Linked DNA regions of Homo sapiens: region 2 is linked to region 1. The links come from fine-mapping of genetic effects on gene expression. Tissue or cell type: thyroid. Region 1 holds a variant in brackets; the other region holds the start of a gene. All regions are shown on one strand. Distances are between the middles of the regions.

The links. PIP is the estimated chance that this variant, and not a neighbour inherited with it, causes the effect.
Region 2: it holds the start of LINC01569, and the variant in region 1 is fine-mapped to the expression of LINC01569 in thyroid (GTEx, PIP above 0.99).

The regions. Positions count from the first base shown.
Region 1 is chr16:4,302,920-4,311,019 of GRCh38, reverse strand. No RefSeq gene overlaps it. Among named protein-coding and RNA genes, the nearest start is that of GLIS2, 9.1 kb to the left of the region's middle. RefSeq lists an enhancer at 5,197-5,709. The variant G/C (reference allele first, on the strand shown) is at 3,313.
Region 2 is chr16:4,250,034-4,258,133 of GRCh38, reverse strand. It overlaps LINC01569 (long intergenic non-protein coding RNA 1569), which reads left to right and starts at 4,345. Exons shown (of 3, transcript NR_039999.1): 1 at 4,345-4,487; 2 at 6,100-6,812. TFAP4 (transcription factor AP-4) reads left to right here. Exons shown (of 7, transcript NM_003223.3): 7 at 1-948. The coding sequence ends at 79. RefSeq lists a silencer at 4,077-4,336 and enhancers at 4,567-4,776, 4,841-5,463.

The sequences.
Region 1 (8,100 bases):
CAGTGGTGCGATCACGGCTCACTGCTGCCTTGACATCCCAGACTCAGGTGATCCTCCTACCTCAGCCTCCCAAGGAGCTGGGACTACAGGCATGTGCCACCACACTCAGCTAATTTTCATATTTTCTGTAGAGACAGGGGTCTCACTATGTTACCCAAGCTAGTTTCGAACTTCTGGGATCAAGCAATCCTCCTGTCTTAGCCTCATAACAGGCGTGAGCCACCATATGCAGCTGAGACCCTGTCTCTTTTTTTTTTCTGAGACGGAGTCTTGCTTGTCACCCAGGCTGGAGTGCAGTGGTACAACCTCTGTCTCCCAGGTTGAAGCTATTCTCCTCCCTCAGCCTCCTGAGTAGCTGGGATTACAGGCGTGTGCCACCACATCCGCCTAATTTTTGTATTTTTAATACGGATGGGGTTTTGCCATGTTGGCCATGCTGGTCTCTAACTCCCGACCTCAGGTGATCCACCCACCTCAGCCTCCCAAAGTGCTGGGATTACAGGCATGAGGCACCGCGCCTGGCCCTTAGACCCTATCTCTAAAAAACCAAAAAAAACAAAAAAACAAAAGAAGTAACCCTTGAGACCTACATTGTAGATGTAGGAGAGATGACAGGAATCAGAATGGATGAATGGTGGCAGATCCAGACCTCTGGCCCTTGACCTTGGCCAAGCCCTCTAACCTCTCTGAGCCTCGGTTTCCCCATCTATGAAATCGCAGTCCTCAGGGTACCTATTACCACTGGCCTCTGTGAGGCTCAGTGGGAAGTGCACAGAAAGGGCTTCCAGCAGCACGTGGCTGGGAGAAAGAGCCCGCAAATGGTAGCTATTATGAATGAAGCAGCCCACAGCGGGCAGAGCCCAGTCACAAGGCAGGAGTGATGGAGGGAGTGAGATCAGGATGACTTATCAACCCTGAGCCGGTGGCCTGGCGAGCCTCTCTCTCCATTGGCGCTGGCTGGCTGAGCCTACAGAGCTGGGGCTGTCTGCGGGTGGGGTGTTTATTCTAGGAAGCGGCCCTGGCTGCTTCTCATTCCCTGCCCCAGGGAGAAAGGAGGGCTTCAAGTCAGAACCGAAGCCATGCTGGGCCTGGCATGTACAACACAGCGCCACCTGCCCGCAGGGCCCAGAGCTGAAAATGCCCAGGAGGTGCAGCCCCAGGGGCCTGGCTGGGACTTGCAGATGTGAGACACTCCCAGGGTGACCCACCTGACTCCCCAAGAACCTGTCCTGCAAAGCCTAAAATGCTCAGCTTTTGGAAGTCTAGAGACTGGGTCCTGCATTCCAGGGCGGGGACGGGATGGGGCGCCTGGGCTAGGGGGGAGAGTTCTATCAGAGGTGGGGATGTCCCTGGTGGCAGCGCTGTCACCCTTGGGCTCCTTCATCAGAGGCTTGCTTCATGGAAGCCATGTGAGCTATGCAGTTGCACAGGGCTGGCCCTTAGAAGGGCCTGAGTGTGGCTGAATGTTCTGCTGTCACCGTCTTGAAATTCTTAATCATTTTAGAACATGGCCCGCGAATTTTCATTTTACATTACGCAGCCTGTCCTGCCTTCATGGTTTCGTTTCTCCTAGCATGTAGCTTCTCCCTCCCATCAGTGTGGCGCACAGACCCAACCTTCAGCCACATCCAGCAAGACAGGAGTGCCTTAGGTAAGCCTCATTTCCTGAAAGGCCGTGGGAGACATGCACCTGCCACCCCAACCCAGCAGGACCAACCTTTCTGGAAAACCTGAGGCCGGCTGTGTGACGTGGGTGAGTCACTCAACTGCTCTGAACTTCTCGGTATCATAATATTGCACAGATCCTTGGGAAGTTTAAAAGAGGTAGTTTTGGGCTGGGCCTGGTGGCTCATCCCTGTAATCACAGCACTTTGGGAGGCCAAGGCAGGTGGATCTCTTGGGGTCAGGAGTTCAAGACCAGCCTGGTCAACATAGTGAGACACGGTGTCTACTGAAAATACAAAAATTAGCTGGACATGGTGGCACACGCCTGTAATCCCAGCTACTCAGGAGGCTGAGGCACGAGAATCGCTTGAAACCAGGAGGCAGAGGTTGCAGTGAGCTGAGATTGCACCACTGCACTCCAGCCTGGGTGACAGAGCGAGACGCCATCGCAAAATAAATAAATAAAAAGTAAAAAAGGTAGTTTTGGTTGGGCACAGTAGCTCACGCCTGTAGTTCCAGCACTTTGGGAGGCCGAGGCAGGAGGATTGCTTGAGCCCAGGAGTTCGAGAACAGCCTGGGCAACATACTAAGACCCTGCCCCATCTCTACAAAAAATTAAAAAATTAGCTAGTTGTGGTGGTGCATGACTGTAGTCACAGCTACTTGGACAGCTGAGGCGGGAAGATTGCTTGAACCCAGGAGGTGGAGGCTGCAGTGAGCCGATTGTGCCACTGAACTCCAGCCTGGGGGACGGAGTGAGACCCAGTCTCAAAAAAAAAAAAAAAAAAAAAAAGGCCGGTCACAGTGGCTCAGGCCTGTAATCCCAGCACTTTGGGAGGCTGAGGTGGGCGAATCGCTTGAACCCGGGAGGCAGAGGTTGCGATGAGCCCAGATCACGCCATTGCACTCCAGCCTGGGCAACAGAGCGAGATTCCAACTCAAAAAAAAAAAAAAATTTAAGATTATTGCAGGGCTGGGTGCGCCGTCTGACGCCTGTAATCCCAGCACTTTGGGAGGCCGAGGCGGGCAGATCACGAAGTCAGGAGTTCAAAACCAGCCTGGCCACCATGGTGAAACCACATCTCTACTAAAAATACAAAAATTAGCCAGGCGTGTTGGCGCGCACCTGCAATCCCAGCTACTCGGGAGGCTGAAGGAGGAGAATCGCTTGAACCTGAGAGGCGGAGCTTGCAGTGAGCCGAGATCGCGCCATTGCACTCCAGCTCTGGGCGACAGAAGACTGTCTGACGGGGTAGGGGAAAGATTGTTGAAGGCGCTAACTTGGAGGGAGAGGAGTCCGCCCGGGATCCCTAAGGACCTGCCCCGGGGAGGAGGAGCCGTCCCTCCCTTGGCCCCTCCCCTCCTGCCTTCCGAGGGAGGAGACCCCCCCAGGGCAGGAACGAGGGGGCGGAGAAGCGCGAGCGACACATTTTTGAGTCGTGACCAAGTGGAAACTCCCTCCCCGAGGCGGAAGCTGGGGGCGCCCCACTGGGGCCCAAGCCTCCGCCGGGGCGGGATTCCAAGCCAGGGGCGGGGCGCCGCCGGTGACCCGGGCCCCGCCTCTCGCCCGCCTCATGAATATGAACAAGCCGGCTGGTGAGCGGAAGTGCGAGGCGGCCCCAGGCTGGCTGGCTCTGCCGCTGAGAG[G/C]GGGGCGCGAGTCCGGGGGGCGTGGCCTGGCTCGGACGCCCCGCCCCTACCCCCACGCGGGGCCTCCTTCCGGCCGGCGCGCCCCGGACGTGACCTCGCGGGCGCGCGCCGGGAGCCGCCAGACTGGGCGCCGACAGCATCCTCCGGGGGTAGGCGCCCACAGTCATTCTTTCCATCGCTGCGGACACGGGAGTCAGAAGTGAAACAGTCCTGTCCTCGTGGGGCTTACGTTCCAGGCGCAAGAGCCACAGGTAGTCGAATTGGGAAACCGCCTCGGATGTCACATAAGCGCCCAGGGAGGACAGGGCAGGACAGGGCCTCCCTGGGGAGGTGACTTGAGTCAAGACTCAAAAGAGGGAAGCGAGGGAACAAGCCATGCGAGGAACTAACGAAGGAACATTCCAGAAAGATTTCACATCCCAAGCCTAAGGTCCAGGGGCAGCAGGCATTGAGGCGGATGTGGCTGGAGTGGAGAGAAAGAGGAATTAAAAGGATGGAGTAATGACAATAATGGCTCACATTTTTTAGCAAGAGGTGGGTTCACTACCTATCTGTCGTTATCTGGGGGGAAATTAGGCTCTGGGAGGTCAAATAACTTGCCCAAGGTCACACAGCTTGTAAGTGGCCAGACCAGCATTGGAACCCAAGGGGACGGATGTCTGAAACACACCCAGGAGTCCCAAGGTGGGATGACCTTGACCAAGACAGGCCCTTTACCCCTTGCCTCAGTTTCATCCCAAAGAGCTGCCCAAACACAGCTTAAAATCAGGGCACAGAGCAAGGGTGTAGCTGAGTGTGCGTAACATCTGTTCTCCTGGGAGATGCTTTTGTTGTCTGGGAAGCACTTGTCACCTCTCCAGGCTCTGGAGCAGGTACAAGTGGCTTCGGGGAGAAAGGGTGGGAGCCGGGAAGAGGCTGCTTCTGGTGGCAGGAGGAGAGAGGGAGTGGGTGAGGGGCCCCGGGCTGGCTGAGTGCTCTGGAGCATGACAAAGGCAGTGTCAGCCAGGCAGCTGTGTCCGCCACTAGCAACCGCGCAGGCAGCATCCCCCGCCATCCCTCTGAGCCTGGAGAGATTGAAACACACACAGTCAGCGTGCCTGCTGCCCAGGTGAGGTGCAGAAGGCCTGGGGGTTGCCAGTCTGGGCTCTGCCGCGAGAAAGTGGCTTTTCTGCAGCCGGAAGCGGGGAGGAAGTGTTTTCACCCTTCTACAAAGCTCTGTCTCTGCCTCTGGATCCACGGTGCTGCAGGCCTGAGGGCTCTCATGGGTACGGGCCTGGTGAGTAATCTAGAATTTGCCCCTTCCCCAGCCTGGTGCAGCCTCTAGTCTCGGCCTTCACGCTCTGCTGTAAAATGAGGCTGGGTCAGGAGTGGGACCCATCCTCCGTGTTTGAGGAGCTGGGCTATTACATGAGCCCCTACCTGAGGTCGCCAGCGAGTCAGAGGTCCTGGTGGGACCAGACCAAAATGGAACCTACTATCGGGCCCATTTTGAGAGGGAGACAGAGAGAAGTTAAAAGTACATGCACACACAGCTCTAAAGTAGCAGAGATGGCATTCAAGTCCAAAGCCTTTGACTCCAGGACGGGCACAGTGGCTCACACTTGTAATTTCAGCACTTTGGGAGGCCGAGGTGGGAGGATCTCCTAAGCCCAGGAGTTCAAGACCAGCATGGGCAACATGGTAAGACCCTATCTCTATTAGCGGGGCGTGATGGCACATGGCTGTAGTCCCAGCTACTCTGGAGGCTGAAGCAAGAGAATCGCTTGAACTTGGAAGGCAGATGTTGCAGTGAGCTGACAGAGCAAGATTCCATCTCAAAACGAACAATCAAACACTAGTCTTGCCCGGCGAGGTGGCTCAGGCCTGTAATGACCAGCCTGGCCAACATGGTGAAACCCCTTCTCTACTAAAAATACAAAAATTTGCTGGGCATGATGGCAGGCGCCTGTAATTCCAGCTACTTGGGAGGCTGAGGCAGGAGAATCCCTTGAACCTGGTAGGTAGAAGTTGCAGTGAGCCGAGACCGTGCTATTGCACTCCAGCCTGGGCAACAAGAGTGAAACTCCGTCCCCAAAAAGAAAAAAACACTAGCCTCAAGCCACAGCCATGTCTCCAACCTTCCCGGCCAGGTTTCTCAAAAGAGGGGGCTACCTGAGGTCACCCACTCCTGCCGAACTCCAGGTGGGCTTCCTCATCCCTTGCTCTATCCTAAACTGTTCCTTAAGTGACAGTTCACACCCTGACGTCTTCCAAGCTGAGACCCCACCAGCAGCTAGCTTTTCCTTTGTGGTTCCACCCACCTCCTAAATCCCTTTAGCAGCCGGGTGCGGTGGCTCGCGCCTGTAATCCCAGCACTTTGGGAGGCCGAGGCGGGTGGATCACGAGGTCAGGAGATCGAGACCACGGTGAAACCCTGTCTCTACTAAAAATACAAAAAAATTAGCTGAACGTGGTGGCGGGCGCCTGTAGCCCCAGCTACTCGGGAGGCTGAGGCAGGAGAATGGCATGAACCCGGGAGGCAGAACTTGCAGTGAGCTGAGATCGCACCACTGCACTCCAGCCTTGGCGACAGAGTGAGACTCCAGCTAAAAAAAAAATCCCTCTAGGGTCCTGCGCCTCTGCCTGTAGCCCCTAAAACCGAATACTCCTGAAAGTTTTATCCTGGGAACCCCTTTCCTTGACACTTTAACTCCGTGGAAGAGGCAAAAGTGAGGGGAACCCCCATCTCTACTTAAGAGTTCCCCACATATTTTTTATTATTATTTTTTTCGTGACGGAATTTCACTCTTTGTTTGCCCAGTCTGGAATGCAATGGCACAATCTCAGCTCACTGCAACCTCTGCCTCCCGGGTTCAAGTGATTCTTCCACCCTAGCCTCCCGAGAAGCTGGGATCACAAGCGCCCACCACCACACCAAACTAATTTTGTATTTTTAGTTGAGACGATTTCACCACGTTGCCCAGGCTGGTCTCGAACTCCTCAGATGATCGGCCCTCTGCCTCCCAAAGTGCTGGGATTACAGGTGTGAGCTCCTGCGCCCGGCTCAGAGTTCCCCATATTTATACTTGCCCTCCAGGGCACACTGGCCTCCATTTTTAGGGACTTGCTTGGTATCTGCCCTTGGGTAACCCACTGGAGCTTTCCAGTTGGACTCCTTGATTGGAGGGGAATCTGGCTACACCTGTCGCCCCAGGATGGACCAGCAGGGCCCGTCTTGAGGCTGCACTCGAGGATAGAGGAAAAAGTGTCATCTTTAAGAGTCCCACCGAGTAGCCAGGTTTCCCTGCCGGAAATTCCTGCCTTGTTTTCCTTTCCCTGGTAAAACTAGGAGAGCCACCTCATTTTCCTGAGCCCTGAGCCCTGAGCGCCCGCCCCCACCCCCGTTGGTTCTAGCTACACAGGCTTTCGGCCTCAGGGTTGCTTTGCACCATCCCCTTCCCCCGACCCAGGCAAGTTCGCTTCTGCTTCTCTCTTGCCCAGCCCTCATTAGCAGGCTCTGACACTTCTCAGCCGCCTGTCCGCTTTGCAGAGAACTGACATGTGAGCTGTGCCCAGGGACATCTGCTGAATGGGCGGGTCCCCTGCCGGACCAGTCCATCTGTCCCTCACTCAGTGTTCCTTCTGAGCTGAAGCTGCCCAGCATCCCCCATCTGTGTGAGTATTCACACAGCGCTGGCCAAAGCCCTGTCGGGAATCACGTGATTCAGATCCTGGTTTTGCCCCTGTCAGCCTTAGGACAAGACAGATTTCTTTTTCTTTGTTTCTCCTGAGATAGGGTCTCACTCTGTCGCCCAGGCTGGAGTGCAGTGGTGTGATCTCAGCTCATTGCAGCCTCAGCCTTTGGGGTTATAGCAAGCCTCCCACCTCAGCTTCCCAAGTAGCTAGGATTATAGGTGCACACCACCATGCTCAGCTATTTTTTTTTACATTTATATTTAGTAAAGACAGGGTCTCACTGTGTTTCCCAGGCTGGTCTCAAACTCCTGGCCCCAAGTGATCCTCCCGCCTTGGCCTCCCAAAGTGCTGGGATTACAGGCATGAGCCACCATGCCCTGGCTACCCAACAGATTTCTTTTCTTTTTTCCCCCCCAAGACGGAGTCTCACTCTGTCATCCAGGCTGGAGTACATTAGCGCAATCTTGGGTCATGGCAACCCCTGCCTCCTGGGTTAAAGCAGTTCTTCTGCCTCAACCTCCCGAGTAGGTGGGATTACAGGCGCATGCCACCACGCCCGGCTGGCTAATTTTTTTGTATTTTTAGTAGAGACGGGGGTTTCGCCATGTTGGCCAGGCTGGTCTCAAACTCCTGACCTCGTGATCCACCTGCCTCGGCCTCCCAAAGTGATGGGATTACAGGAATAAGCCACCATGCCCGTCCCACCCAACAGATTTCTTGAGGTGAGTTTTGGTTTCCTGGCATGGTATTGGCTACATGACCTCATCTGTAATGTCTTTGGCAAACAGAATAACTTGTTTTGTATTACTATGTTTAATCTTCAAAATCACCCTATTGAGTAGATTGTCACAATCAGGCCTGTTTTGTGGATGAAGAGAGGGAGGCTTGGAGAAGCCGCGTGGTTCATGCAAAAATGCAAAGCTGCAAAGTAGTGGCGGTGGGGTTCAAGTCCTGACGCTTTCACCACTGAGCGCCTTGCCATCCCCTGCTGCCATCCTCTCTTGGTTCTGATACTTCTTTTTTTTTTTTTTTTGAGATGGAGTCTCACTCTGTCGCCCAGGCTGGAGTGCAATGGTGTGATCTCGGTTCACTGCAACCTCCACCTCCCACGTT
Region 2 (8,100 bases), 53 kb after region 1:
CTCCGACTCCGAGGCCTCAGACAGTGACGCCATGGACCAGAGCCGGGAGGAGCCGTCGGGGGACGGGGAGCTTCCCTGACTACCCCCCCAGCCCTCCTCTCCCTTCTGGGGGCTGGAGGGAGCCGGGGCAGCCACAGGGAGAGACATGGGCGAATGAGTGAGAAATTTTTACAAAATTACGATGTCATTTGGGTCTCTTTTATGACCTCTTTTTCAATACTGTAAATCGACCTTTGAACGAAGCCACTCAACCCGAGGTCCCGGGGCTGGGGTGTCGCAGAGCGTGTGGGAGCATCGGCACCCCAGGGCGGGGCCTCGGCCCCGGGGGCTGGAGGAAGCTGACACGGAGATGCCTGGCCTCTCTCTGCCAAAAAGCATTTTTTCCTTTAAATATGTTTTTTAAGAACAGGGAAAATTAAACAAAACCCCAGGTTATTTCTTCCCTGCCCAGAGCCAGCCTGGGATTGTCAGCCTTCAATCCCCTTTCCTTCCTCTTTTTGGGTTTTCTTCTTTCTCCTTTAAGCACTTACATGGTTGGGGGTAAGACTAGGCTGGGGCATTCTGGGGGCCCGGAGGTCTCCGTTGCTTCTTGGTTGGGGTTTGCTGCTGCTGTGCCCCCCTCCCCCTTCCCCATCTCGGCACTAGAATTCGCCACTCTCCCACCCCCCAGCCCCCACCTCTGCCTCCAGGTCTCATCTTCCACCCCAAAAATGTCTGTCTCTCTCTTTTTGTTTTGTTTGTTGTTGGTTTTTTATTTCTTTTTGGTTTGCTTTCTGTTTTTGTTTTGTTTTTCTTTTTTTTCTTTCTTTTTTTTTTTTTTTTACAATTTTGAGGTCTTCGTGTTCAAGGAGAAGCTATTATATTTTGTTAAGAAAGTGGGGAGAAAAAAACCAAGAGGCCACCGTGCCTTTGTAAAGAAACAAAATAAAGTTTGTACTTTGTTTTTTAGATTCTGAGTCTCCTGGGTGTGGGCTGGCCTGAAGACCAGGGCAGGGCTACCCCATCTAGAGTAGGGGGGCTCCTTGGGCCCCCCAAAGCGGACTGGGTGTGTGTGAGCACAGTTACTCCCTCAGCTTGTGTGTGGTGTTGCGATGAAAAATTGGGGTCCTCAGTTTCCCTGGGATGACCCTGGGTATTCTGTAAAGATGGAAGATGGTGTTGAGGCTGGGGAGTGGCTCTTTGGTGGGCGGCAAGGAGAGAAGGACAACCAAGCCACCGATTCCGAAAACCTGGGAAAGGACACAGGTGTTCAGGGGCCCTGCTTGGTCCCTACGCTTTGGTTAATCCCTAGGTTTTGCCACTTCCTGGGCTTCTGTAACTTCTCTGAGCCTCATCCTCTCCTCCCCTAGGAGGGGAACCCCACCCCCTCCAACCGCACCCCCCCAGCACCCCCCTGCCCCCCCGTGGTGTGGTGTTTAAGTGCTAAGATCCTGGAATTGGTCTGCCAGAGGTCAGTTCCCCCTCTGACAAACCGCTTCCTCTGAGCCTCAATTTCTTCTTCTAAAAATTGGCGATAATAACGGCACAAGGACATTGCATCCTATTGGGGATTGGCATGGTCCTTTATTTCGAGACAGAGTCTCTGTCTCCCAGTCTGGAGTGCAGTGGCGTGATCTCGGCTCACTGCATCCTCTATCTCCTGGGTTCAAGCAATCTTCTTGCCTCAGCCTCTCAAGTAGCTGGGACTACGGGAGTGCACCACCATGCCCAGCTAATTTTTGTATTTTTAGTAGAGACAGGGTTTCACCATGTTGACCAGGCTGGTCTTGAACTCCTGACCTCAAGTGATCCGCCTACCTCGGCCTCCCAAAGTTCTGGGATTAAAGGGATGAGCCACCATGCCTGGCTATTTTTAAATTTTTATTATTATTTTTTGGTGTGAGATGGGGTCCTGCTCTGTCGCCCAGGCTGCAGTGCAGTGTTTTGATCACAGTTCACTGCATCCTTGACCTCCTGGTCTCAAGTGATCCTCCCACCTCAGCCTCCCTAGTAGCTAGGACTACAGGCCTGTACCACAAAGCCTGGCTAATTTTTTTTTTTTTTTTTTTTTTTGAGATGGAGTCTTGCTGTGTCACCCAGGCTGGAATGCAATGGCACGATCTTGGCTCACTGGAACCTCTGCCTCACAGGTTCAAGCGATTCTCCTGCCTCAACCTCCTGAGTAGCTGGGACTACAGGCACCCACCATCATGCCCAGCTAATTTTTGTATTGTTAGTAGAGATGGGGTTTCACCATGTTGGCCAGGCTGGTCTTGAACTCCTGACCTCAGGTGATCCACCCACCTTGGCCTCCCAAAGTCCTGGGATTACAGGTGTGAGCCACCGTGCCTGGCCTGGGCCCGGCTGACTTTTTTATATTTTATTGTAGAGGCAGGGTTTTGCCATGTTGCCCAGGCTAGGCCATGGTCCTTTAAATCCTTCACTCTTCCGTGACCAGAGATCGATTTACACCGTGGTCCCCTCCTATGCCTCATGCTCACAGTGCTGGGTGCTTGGGGACTGAGGCCAGAGCAGAAGGCAGAATCACAGCTCACCCCACGATGACAGTGGACACGAACTCTTCACAGAAAGGCAGGAGTCTGCAGGTTTTCTTGGAATTTTACAGTGAACAATTCAATGGCACTTCATACATTCACAGTGTTACACAGCCTACCTGGTTCCAAAACATGTCCGTCACTCCAAAATGACTCCATGAAGCAGTCACTCCTTCCCCCTCCTCCCAGTCTCCAGCAACCACCTGCTTTCTGGTTTTAATATCTTTTTTAAAAAATTAAAGTAGTTGGCTGGGCGTGGTGGCTCACACCTGTAATCCCAGCACTTTGGGAGGCCGAGGCGGGTGGATCACATGAGGTCAGGAGTTCAAGACCAGCCTGGCCAACATGGTGAAACCCCAACTCTACTAAAATACAAAAATTAGGCTGGGCACAGTAGTGGTTCACGCCTGTAATCCCAGCAGTTTGAGAGGCCGAGGTGGGCGGATCACTTGAGGTCAGGAGTTTGAGACCAGCCTGGCCAACATGGTGGAACCCCGTCTCTACTAAAAATACAAAAATTAGCCTGGCATGGTGGCGAATGCCAGTAACTGTGGTCCCAGCTACTGGTGAGGCTGAGGCAGGAGAATCACTTGCACCGGGGAGGTGGAGGTTGCAGTGAGCTGAGATTGTGCCACTGCACTCCAGCCTGGGTGACAGGGCGACACTCCATCTTAAAAAATAAATAAATAAATAAATAATTTTTAAAAATGAAAGTAGTTACATTTAGTAGAAGTCACACTTTCTGATTTTTGGTTTTGCGTGTTTCCTACACGCAAATGCATAGTTTCCTACCCACCACTATGATCAAGATATGATTTAAAGAAAAAATAAAACAGGCCGGGTACGGTGGCTCACGCCTGTAATTCCAGCACTTTGGGAGGCCAAGGTGGGCGGATCACCTGAAGTCGGGAGTTCGACAGCAGCCTGACCAACATGGAGAAACCTTGTCTCTACTAAAAATACAAAATTAACCGGGCGTGGTGGCGCATGCCTGTAATCCCAGCTACTCGGGAGGCTAAGACACGAGAATCGCTTGAACCCAGGCGGCGGAGGTTGCGGTGGGCCGAGATCGCGCCATTGCACTCCAGCCTGGGCAACAAGAGCGAAACTGTCTCAAAAATAAATAAATAGATAAATAATAAATAAAACCAAAGCAAAATAAAAAAGATATGAATTAGTTCCTTCATTTCCAATGCCCCCCATGCCTCTTGGTGGTCAACCCAGCCCCTAGGAGCCACTGATCTATGTTGCCATAGTCTTACCTGTGACATGTCATAGAAATGGGATAACCCTGCCTTTTGAGCCTGGCTTCTTTGCACTGCAGCCAATTTTCTCTTGCTGAGATTATCCAGCTAAATTTACATAGGATCTGGCCCGGCACAGCGACCCCTTTCGGCCAGGTGCGAAACGGCAGGCCCGACGGTCCCCACGCAGCTCCTAAGAGGATCAACAGAGGGCGCAGTGCGCCCGGAACGCCCAGCCCCTGCGAAAGCGGAGGCTCCTCTCTCGGTCCCTGCGGGACAGCTCAGTTCTCATAGGCCAGAGGCGTGGCTTGGGGGCGGGCCAGGGGAATCCCACCTCCCCTTGCATGCTCAAGCGCGCCGGGCGATGGTAGGCGGTCTCACCCGCAGGCGGTGGAAGTCAGGGGCGCGGCTGCGGCCCCGCCCCTTCCCGGACTCGCCCCGCCCGTCCCCTCGCCGCGCATGTTCCCAGACGCCTCAGGCCATGGCGCGCGCGCTCCCGCCAGCACGCACGTCTGGCCCCGCCCCCGCGCCTGGCGCCCGCGCGCTCTCTCGCACGATCTGCTCCCGGACTCCTTCAGCGCGCTGCCTGCCTGCCCAGGGCCTTCCCGGAGAGCAGGTGACGGCGGCCTCCGGGCATGGAGCTCGCGCTGACGAAAGGTTCTGGAAGCCGCCGTAAAAAGTAATCAAGAAACGGGTGACAGGACTTTTCGTAAGACATTTAATTTTTACCCAGAGTATCCGAAACATTGCCGTGTCAATCTCAGTGCGATGGGAGACTGCCGGCCCCAAGGAGCTGCTCGTCCTTCTGCCGAGTTCCGGCCCGGACCCGCGGAGGAGGAGACCGCCGCGCCGGAGCTCGGACCTGACGTTTTTGTGAAGCACAGGGGGCGTGGGAGGGACCGGATCAATGCGGCACTCAACAAAACCTGTTTTTAAAAGAGTCGTGCTGTGTCGCCCAGGCTGGAGTGCAGTGACGCGATCTCGGCTCACTGCAGCCTCCACCTTCCGGGCTCAAGCGAGCCTCCCGCCTCAGCCTCCTGAGTAGCTGGGATTACAGGCACACACCTCCAGCTCGGCTGTTTTATTTATTTATTTTTTTTTTGAGACGTAATTTAGCTCATGTTGACCAGGCTGGAGTGCAGTGGCGCGATCTGGGCTCACCGCAACCCCCGCCTCCCGGGTTCAAGCGATTTTCCGCCTCAGCCTCCTGAGTAGCTGGGGTTGCAGGCATGCGCCACCACGCCCGGCTAATTTTGTACTTATAGTAGAGACGGGGTTTCTCCATGTTGGTCAGGCTGGTCTCGAACTCCCGACCTCAGGTGCTCCGCCCGCCTTGGCCTCCCAAAGTGCTGGGATTACAGGCGTGAGCCACCTCTCCAGGGCCAAAAGCCTTTTATTGGAGTACTGGGTAACACATTCAGAAGAGGGTGCATAGCTTAGGCGCTCCGTGAATTTTCACAAACTGAACATACACCCAGGTAGCCAACACCCCCAGCAAGCCCCAGAATCCCCTCATGCTTGCTTTCTGCCACTATCAAGCAGTTTGCTTTCTTTCAGATTTTTAAGTTTTGAAATAATTATTGAAATGTACAGGGAGAAGTCTGGGTTGGTGGTTCTAACCTGTAGTCTCAGCTACTAGAGAGGCTGAAGGGGGAAGATGGCTTTAGCCCTGGATTTCTAGACTAGCCTGGACAACATAGCAAGACCTCATCTCTATTTGTTTTTGAGACAGAGCCTCGGTCTGTCACCCATGCTGGAGCGCAGTGGACCTCCGCCTCCCGGGTTCAAGTGATTCTTCTTTCTCAGCCTCCCGAGTTATTTGGGATTACAGGTGTGCGCCACCACGCCCAGCTAATTTTTTTGTATTTTTAGTAGAGACGGGTTTCACCATGTTGGCCAGGCTGGTCTTAAACTTCTGACTTAAGGTGATCTGCCCGTCTCGGCCTCCCAAAGTGCTGGGATTACGACGTCAGCCACTGCTCTTGGCCTATCTTTTTTTTTTTTTTTTTTTTTAAAAGAAAGAGATGTATAGGGAGATCACCCAGTATCCCTCAGTGTTAACATCTTGCATAGCTACAGTTAGCATAGAAGCCAGGTAATTGACATTGGTACTGTACATGGGACTTACTCAGATTTACACGTTTTTTAATGTTTTATGTGTATGTAGTTCTCTATTCTCTACCATTTTTATGAGAGTTCCAGTTGCCTTGCATTCCCACCAGCACTTAGTATTGTCAGATTTATCATTATTTAGGTATTCTGGTAGGTGTATGGTGGAATCTCACCATAGTTTTAATTTCTTCTCTTTTTTTAAAAAATAGGAACAAGGTCTCACCATGCTGCCCAAGCTGGTCTGAAAACTCTTGTCCTCAGGCAGTCCTCCCACCTCGGCCTCCCAAAGATCTGAGATTACAGGCATGAGCCACCACACCTGGCCTTGGTTTTAATTCCTGTCACAGTATATTAGTTTTCGCTGTTGTGTATTGATTGATTGAGACAGGGTCTCGCTCTGTTGCCCAGGCTGGAGTGCAGGGGCATGATCCCAGCTCACTGCAACCTCCACCTCTTGGATTCAAGTGATTCTCCCGTCTCAGCCTCCCGAGTAACAGGAACCACAGGTGTGTGCCAGCACGCCTGGCTAATTTTTTTTTTTTTTTTCTTGAGGTGGAGTTTCACTGTTGTTGCCCAGGTTGGAGTGCAGTGGCACAATCTCAGCTCACTGCAACCTCTGCCTCCTGGGTTCAAGTGATTCTCCTGCTTCAGCCTCACGAGTTGTTGGGATTACAGGCGCCCGCCACCACGCCCAGGTAATTTTTGTTTAGTAGAGACGGGGTTTCACCATGTTGGCCTGGCTGGTCTCGAACTCCTGACCTCAGGTGATCCACCCACCTCGGCCTCCCAAAGTTGTGGGATTGCAGGCGTGAGCCACTGCGCCTGGCCTAATTTTTCAATTTTTTGGTGGAGATAGGGTTTCACCATGTTGGCCAGGCTGGAGTTTTGCCTGTTCTAGAAGCTTGTATCAGTCATACAACACGTAAGTTCTTTTTGTCTAGCTTCTTTTGCTCAACACAATATCTCTGAGATTTATTTATGTTTTTATGTAAACATAAATGTTCATTTTTCTTGCTAAGTACTATTTCATTGTATGAATAGACCACAGTTTGTTTATCCATTCACCTAGTGGTGGACATTTTATTTATTTTTATTTATTTATTTATTTATTTATTTTTGAGACAGAGTCTTGCTCTGTCGCCCAGGCTGGAGTGCAATAGCTCAATCTCAGCTCACTGCAGCCTCTGCCTCCCAGGTTCAAGCCATTCTCCTGTCTCAGCCTCCCGAGTAGCTGGGATTACAGGCACACACCACGACACCCTGCTACTTTTTGTATTTTTAGTAGAGACAGGGTTTCACCATGTTGGTCAGGCTGGTCTTGAACTCCTGGCCTCGTGATCCATCCACCTCGGCCTCCCAAAGTGCTGGGATTACAGGCATGAGCCACCGCACCTGGCCATGGTGGACATTTATGTTGTTTCCAACTTAGGGCTATTATAACTAGATTTTAGTAGCTACCATCCCCCAAATGCATGGTACCAATTTTCTCTCCTACCAACAGCATGTAAGGTGACAGTTCAGGAGAAGTGTCCTAAGCATGTGTCATGGACCCTGTTTGGGGGGTGATTTCTTTGAGGCGGGGCCAGGCATTCTTGGTTCTCTGTGGCCTCCCCTGCCCTATTTTTTTTTTTTTAGATGAAGTTTCACTTTTGTCACCCAGGCTGGAGTGCAGTGGTGCTATCCCGGCTCACTGCAACCTCCGCCTCCTGGGTTCAAGCGATTCTCCTGCCTCAGCCTCCCGAGTAACTGGGATTACAGGCATGCACCACCGTGCTCAGCTAATTTTTGTATTGTTAGTACAGACAGGATTTTGCCATGTTGGCCAGGCTGGTCTCCAACCCCTGGCCTCAACTGATCCACCTGCCTTGGCCTCCCGAAGTGCTGGTATTATAGGCATAAGCCACCGCGCCTGGCTGGTCCCCTGCCCTATTTTAAGAGTCTCTATTAGGGATAAACTTCATGGAAAATGTATGTCTGTTCTAAGAATGTTCTCAAGTGTCATTACCTTGTGCTGTATCTGTTTCCTCTTTACGAGGATTCTCAGAAGAAATTCTTGCCGAGTCTCAATAGTTGAAATAATTTCACTCCTTCCAAGCATTTGGTTTGCTCTTATTTTAAGGACACTGAATTGGGCAGGTGGTCAAGTTACACACATGTGAGGGACTGAAATATATGGTGTCATTTTTTCCCGTTAGTCTTACGAATGGTTC